Homo sapiens: one gene and its partner. The protein of the gene in region 2 purifies or fractionates together with the protein of the main gene of each other region. This does not show direct contact. Each region holds a gene or a part of one and is shown on either strand. Other genes may lie near its edges.

Region 1 (3,823 bases), on a different chromosome or scaffold from region 2:
ATGGAGGTCTTCCAGGTGAGAAGATAGTGGCAGCTATAGATGCCAGTATCACTGTAGGTTACATTGTTGAGGAAGAATGATGTGTTGTCATCGATGCTGGTGGCATCCAAAAATTGAAGTGGTTTGTCTTCTCCTTTCTTATAGAGTGCAAGACCCACTCCATCCACTGGTCCTCGACACCGTAGGCTCACATTCTGACCCATTTGGACCACAGCACTGGGCCGAGCAAGTAGCCAGGTCTTGGGGAAAGTGTCTAGGATGAGACCCAGAATAAAAAGCACTAGTGATTTCACTTCCTGCTCCCACTCCTTAAGATTCTTTTCCTTCTCTTCCTCCAAACCACCCTTGGAAAAACCTGCCTACACCCAGTTTTACAAATTCTGCTCCCTTCTCTACTGTTAACCCTGGCCACAGGATTAGGTTCTCCAGGGAGCACAGAGGGAGATTTATATCCTTAGCCGTTAACCTAAGTTTCATGGCATACCCGTCTCTTACCAGTCACCCAGATTTTCAGGACATCACTAAGGAGTGAACCTCTATATGATGCGTCATAGTAAAAACAGAGGTAATGTCCAGTATCTTGGATCTTCAAAGACTGGAAGAAGAAATTTGCCTCATTTTTTATTGTCTTCTTGTGGTAAAAGGACTTCTCCAAGTCTTCAACCCTCATTAGAGCAAAGGTCATTCCATAGATTGGCCCTTGGCACCTGAGATTCAGGCTTTCTCCAGGTGCCATGATGGGCCCAGGATGGGCTGTCAAAGTTGGTTTGGGGTAGAGTCCTACAAACGGAAGAGACCCTAAAGTTAGAGGCAAGATGATTCTTTCCTGTTGTCTTCTGTTTTCTCTTTCTTAATTTCTTTGAACAAGAAGTGGTAGCTGAAGTTTACCTTCTCTTCCCTATCCCTTCCTTGGATCTCTGCCTCTGTAACATAATCAAGGGTAGATTCACTTATGCCCCTGTTCTCTCTCAAGAATCTGCCAGCTTCACTGAGCTCTAACCATGTGTAGGGGTGTATCTCAGTGGAAGATCTACATCTATAATTCCCTGTATCTTTAGGCCCCTGAAATGCCAAATGTAGTTCTTTCAACCACCAGAAAAACCAAACCTCTGAAAATAACATTGTTTTCATCTTTGCAGAGCATGAATGCCACTGAAATATTAAGGAGAGCTTTTGAATACATTAAGCTCATTTAAGACCCTACTTCTACAACAAGACTGAAAGAAGCCAATAAAGAGGGTTTGGCCAGTAAGTCTGCGACCCAAATAAATCTTTGTTATGGGGCCACACATTCCTTTCCATGAATTGTTTCTCCAAGGAGATTTTACATGAAAGTGAGGGCAAACCTCACCTCCTACCACTCCTTCCTACCCCCACCCCAATGCCAGGCACACTTATCTATTCATTAAGGAAGGATCAGCTCTGTCATATGCTCACTGAGCATTTAGTATGCATCAAGCGTCATGTAGGTCTAGGTGTGTATGAGTAAAGAAGACACAGTCTCCGCTAGCAAAAAGCTCATGAACTGGTTGGTGGGGGATATTGGTGAACAGGTAACTACGGAAGTGTATTTTAGTGGAATCTATGCTGAAAGGGCATGAGTACAACAAACATTCATACACTCAGTTCAAACAGGCAGTTTTTGTTCTTTGATCCTCAATAAAAAGCTATACTAACAAAATTAATATCTACCATTTATTGAGAACTTATATGCCAGGCACTGTACATATATATTTAGGCAAATCCTCACAACAACCCTGTGAGGTAGGCATTATTATTAAACCAATTTTGCAGATCAGGAAGCTGAGGCACAGAGAGAAGCATTACACAGTAGATCAGATAGATACTGTTATCCCATTTTTAGAGTAGAGGAAGCCAAAGCACAGAAAAGTGAAGTGACTTGCTCAAGACCACACAGGGAGGCAGTGTCAGAAATAGAACTAGAAACCAGTATTACTGCTTCTAAGTCTAGGGTACTTTCTGTAGCACCACAGCTTTCCCCAAGCCTATTTAGCTGGATAGAGAGACTAAAGCAAATGTGGCCAATTCCATCTAGAAACCTCCAGGCCATGGGGTGGGGGAGTTCGGGCTGGGACATGTCTGGCATTTTACATTTTGGGGAAATTTCTTCTATATTTAGAGATTGGTGCTGCCTTACTAGCTCTACTGATAGGGAACCAAGGTGATTTATAAAGCCATTTCTAAAATATGAGCTATCACATTCTTTGTCATTTGTTTTTTTTTGTTTTTACTCACCAACACTAGCAATCCATTCTGTTTTCCACACATAAAAATAACAATTACAAATAAAATACATTTGCAAATTTAAAACTCCATTTATAAGATTGCAGTGGCAGTGCCTGGCACATATTAGGTGCTCAATAAATACTGGTTGAATTAATGAATGAATGCATGATATTCAACAAGTTGAGAACAACAAAGCTGTGATGAGCTGAAGCTGCTGGCCAGTTGGCTGGGCTCCTTTACTAGCCAAATGATTGGCTCCCATACATCTGCCTTGCAGCACATGCCATTCTAATTTATATCTCAGTAAAACTTCAAACGACTGTAGCTCATGGGGCCTTGCAGGGCCTAGAAACTGGCTGAGGAAAGTAAAATCAGAAACCCTAGCTCAGCCAGCCATGATACCTGGGACAACAATTGCCAGATGCCAGCAGCCATAGCCACACCCACCTGCTACAACCAGCTTCAGGGGGTTGCTGGGCTCTGACCACAGGGTGGGGAGCATCTGGATATGAGTGCGGCAGATGTAAACCCCTTCATCCTCAGGTGTCAGGTTGTCAATGGAGAATATGGCCATTGTCCCAGTTGGGACTTGGTAATCCACAGGCTCTGCATATCCCTCTTTAAACAGCATGAATACCAAATCCTGCAGCCAGCCATGGCAGAGGATGTTAACATTACACCCAGGAAGAGCGGGGGTCTCAGCCTGAATCCAGAAGATGGGCTTGGGCAGTTGGCCTGGAAGGATAGAATGAACTGGAATTAGGTAAAGCAAGGATAGTACTGTCTAGGGAGCAGCAGAGGAGAGCTCTACTTTAATTGAGGTTTCCCTGTATGATCCTTGTTTGCCACCCCTCCTTCTCCTATCTCTGCTCCAGAGTCTGCATCCCCCCTCTGCATTGCCCAATACAAAGTAGGCCCTTATTTACTAACTGTGGGATGCATGCTTGCATGCATTTGTGAAACAAACTCTCCCCTGGAAGGCAAGTTTGAATCTCAGGAGCTGGAGTTGATTCTTGAGTATCACTGTCATCTTACCTGGTGCCTCCAACTCTAGAACTTTACTGGGCTTTGACCAGCCTGTCTCCTTCCAGTAGCAGCACCGGTAAAGACCTGCATTGGACTCAGTAAGGGCACCTATAAGGAATGAAACTTGGAAGGTCTTGTGGGAAGGGCGGATCCAGGTCATCTGTGTCTTATCCTTCAGCAGCAGGAACTTGCTTGATATCCGAGAGGGGCTTCGGCACCAAAGCGTGATGTTCTCCCAAGGGGCCTGGGGGTAGTTGGACTCTATCCACAACTCTGGTTGAGGGTCCATCACTGTTATTCCCAAAGATCAAAAAGATATGAGCAGTCCAACCCTCTCCCTCCCATAACATGTCCCACAATGTCCCTTAAAATTAGCCCGGACCCAGATCCCTCATTTTGTCTTCCCTTGGGGACAGGAGTGTGCTCCTGTGGGGCATCGTATAAGAACCCCAAGATATTTTGTCAAGGGGTCCAAATGAATTGGAGAATAAAGTCTGATGGTCTCTTTTCCATCTGAGATAAAGCTTTTTCACCATGCCATAGGAAACCA
Region 2 (3,823 bases):
AAATAATACTCTGATACTTTAATTTCCTTTTGATAAAAAACTGATGTTTTCAAATTGCTTTATGGGGAAGTTTTATAAAAAATACAGCAGGTAAGAAATGGGTGTCCGACCCCACATTTATGGCCTACTGTCATCTCTGCAGAGGAAATCCCAGGGAATGGAGTTGGGGATGGGGCCCAGCAGCTAGGTGAGAATAAACTGGCAGGGACAGAAAAGGGGGTTTGATTTCATCGAGCAACTGCTGGAGGAAGAACCCAAGACAGAAATAAGACAATACACAGAGCAGAAAACAGTGATGCTTGAAAAAGCAGGGTAGGCTGACAGTGTGTCTAGTGGCAGCTGGAGGAAGGAAGCAGTCAAAGATTATTCTAGGATGTCGAATATAATTTCCTGGAAGCACTATGACTGCATCAACAGAAATAAAGGGGAAAATAAAACCAGATCTTATAGACAGTATGATAACTTTGATTTCTGATCAGAAAGAAAGGATTTATAGTAGCTCCAATAGTAGCTTTTCAAAGACAGCACTGTTTCTTACCTCCTGATACACATCTCCTAGCAACCTCCCAAAGGATGAGGCCAAAACTATACATGTCAGCCATGATGTAAGACTGGAAGTGATTTCTGTTCAAGCTCTCGTCCAACACTTCTGGAGGCATATAGCGTTTGGTGCCAACTCGAGTGTTAGGTGGTATGTCAACTTCATTTGTATCACTAAGGAAAAAGTAAAGCAAAGCATTACAGCATTGAAGAGGACCAACAAAAACGAATCAAGGTGATTCTGAAACAATGGCTTTAGTTAGTGAAAAGTGGAAAAGAAAAACTTTCCAGGGAATAAAAACAATTTCTTAAAGAATATTTCTTGCCAAAAGCTATATTAAATATTTACAGGTTAAAAGCCAATGAAAGGCAAGCTGATACTGTGGTGCATGCCTGTAGGCCCAGCTATTCTGGAGGCTGAGGTGGAAGGATAGCTTGAGCCTAGAGGTTCAAGGCCTGACTGGGCAACATAGTGAGATGCCATCTCTTAAAAAAAGTTAGAAAAAAAAAACAATGAAGATAAAACTCAGTCAGAATGAAGCTGCAGCATTTAAAATTGCATTACCAATAGATCAAATTTATACCCTAAACAACTGCTAAATATATATTAAATATCTAAAAAAACCCTCTTCCTTCCCCTCCTATTTTAAAAACTTTACTCTTAAAATGGGCATGCACACATGACAATTTCATGTGAAACAGTATTTTTTAAGCCAGCTGTTGTAAAGCTCTTAGATCTATAAACAGGTTTCAAAAGGGGAGAAGGAGAGAACCAACAAAGACATGCAATTGTTTTACTCTGACAAGGTGGGACATATAAAAAAGCTTTCTGCTATCACTATTGTTTTATGAACCAAATAGCATTTAACTTTTTTTTTCAAAGGAAGAAAACAATAATGGAATATAACATCTTTAACTTTCTGAAAATTTTACAACAGGCCCATTTACTATTCCTTCCCATAGACTGGGAAAAGAGTAATGACGGAGGGACAACAACCTGCACACTGGCACTTGGGAACCATTGCTTCAGTGCGATGAGCTGGAGCCACAGTTCCAGCCCCTGTTCTAAGGGTGCTGAATGACTAGGCTGATGATTAAATGAGATGACATGTACAAGCCCTGCCAACATGGTACTAGGCACATATTAGATACTTAAGTACTGTAACTCATCAGAAAGTAAAGGAACTAGGTAGAAAAGTAACAAACCCTAGATATGACAGATGAACAGACTATAACCAAATAAGGTATACTATAAAACCAAAAAGGTACAGAAACTCATTATTAAGCTGAACTCTGTGGAAAATCTTGAATAAACCTTTCTACCTCCTGATTCCCAACAATTTTTTTTTTTGCTTTTGCTTTTCATTACACTCTATTGACTTTCAAGAATTTACATGTTATTTCTCCTCAGCCTGGAAAACAGATTCATTTATCGAATATCACACTTATCCTGCTGTCATAGATAGTCAATACCAAAACACTAGTGGCTTCAGGAAAAAAACAAAAATCAAAAACCTCTGGGTTTGATCTCATTGCCTTGACCACTTCTACAACATGAAATACATGGTGTCATTTTTTGTCATTTGAGAACATTTTAAGTGTCATTCTGAATATCTCAAAATTTTTACATTTACTAAAACATAAAATGCAAAACTTCATTTTAGAACATTTTAAAGTCACTTCCGGCTAGAATTCTTAATCTAAAATTTTATGTTTTAGATAAGATGACATATCAACAGATATGTCATCAGTGTACTCATTAGGCCCCTCGTGGTTTTCTAGGTGCAATAATAACTAGCCTGTTTTCTTAAATAAAAGTTAAGACGTTAAAAAAAAAGTTAAAGTGTAATTAAAAAACAAAACAGATGGTATTCTTTACCATATGCAAACATAGGTCCCAGTGTTCTGGGATCTTTTCTAAAACTGGAAAAAGAGGCTAAAATGTTAATTCTCAGCACTTATTGGTATAATAGAAAATTGTCATTTGTATGTGTAAATGATAAATGACAGGGGAGGAAAGTATGCTGAGAAGAGACTTAATGGTAAACTGGAAACATGTCAGATTGAATAGATGCTACAAAAGCTCCATTTCCATTTATAAAGCACGCTCTCCTCCTACTCCACCTGCTGACACCTCTCATGGGAGCAGAGTAGGGATTTCACTAATGTGGTGCCAGCATGTCCTAATTTTAATTTTTAATCATGAGGAAGATAGTGGTGACCCCAGGTAAGAAGTCCTGGGTCCCATGCAGAGAAAACAAACATGAGGGTTTGCAGATGAAAAGAAGATGGTTAAAGACCTCCACTGTATTCCAGAACAAGAAGAATCTTAAGACAATCCACACAGAAGGGCATTTAGAAAGGCCAAAGGTGTAATCTGACCACAGTTGATAAAGATTTTAGGCAATTTCATTCCATTCTTACTCTTAGCTCCTTAATGTTTATTTGGATTTGGGAGGTCAGGAAAAGATAATGGAATGTGTGATGTAGAGATATCTATTAGAAAAATGAAAGGTAATTGTGACCTAATAATAGAATTAAAATTTGTGACAGCTGGAGTATACATAGTTCATCTCTAAATTCTTTTTCTCAAACACTGCAAAAACATACACTCAAGGATTCTGAATGTCCACCAAATGCCAAAAATCAGTCCTTTACATAGTCCCTTAAATACATATGCATGTTCAGCAATAAGCCATCTCTCTCCTCCCCTTCCTCTCCCACCCTAGACGTTTGCCCTAGTAGTAGCTGAATAAATCTTCTCCCTAGTAACATTTGAGTAAGTAATCTGTTTTCCAACTGAAGACTATCAACTCCTCTGAGCCCCCAAATACTTGTCATAGTCATTTGGTATATCCCCAAAGAGCATAGCCCCAATCCTTCTCCATTCGCAGTGTGTCTTGCACATGACAGGAAAATAATGTACTTTAAATGAAAGAAGGAAAAGGTTTGTTTACACTAAACTTTGCTATGGATAATTTAAAGGGAAATGTAAAAATCTCTGGACTGCATGGGCCATAAAATGAGATCTTACCAATTTCTAGAAGGATAAATAGAATTTTGTTGAGCAAACTAATTTTGTGAAAGATCACTATCAACCTATTGGCAAGTGCCTTTAGCACTACACTTAAACAACAAACATGAGAATTATAGGTAATCCATATCTGATACTGTAAAGTGTCAGATCCTCCAAAACATTTAGCTCTGCCCCTTCTTCCCTCAGGCATGTTTCTATAATTGAAAGTCATTAGACTACATTTCTTTCTCAGATTTTCAGTAGCAT

Evidence for each region.
Region 1: the proteins of BMPR1B (region 2) and IGSF1 purify together in Homo sapiens (affinity purification with western blotting, with the first as the bait; one study listed by BioGRID). This does not show direct contact.

Annotation. Positions count from the first base shown.
Region 1 is NC_000023.11:131,282,485-131,286,307, forward strand, and holds part of IGSF1 (immunoglobulin superfamily member 1 isoform 1 precursor), read right to left. Parts: intron 3,565-3,823; coding exon 3,283-3,564; intron 2,983-3,282; coding exon 2,695-2,982; coding exon of another isoform or gene 2,633-2,694; exon of another isoform or gene 1,682-2,632; intron 781-1,681; coding exon 496-780; intron 254-495; coding exon 1-253. UniProt on the Homo sapiens protein: Seems to be a coreceptor in inhibin signaling, but seems not to be a high-affinity inhibin receptor. Antagonizes activin A signaling in the presence or absence of inhibin B.
Region 2 is NC_000004.12:95,145,639-95,149,461, reverse strand, and holds part of BMPR1B (bone morphogenetic protein receptor type-1B isoform b precursor), read right to left. Parts: intron 715-3,823; coding exon 539-714; intron 1-538. UniProt on the Homo sapiens protein: On ligand binding, forms a receptor complex consisting of two type II and two type I transmembrane serine/threonine kinases.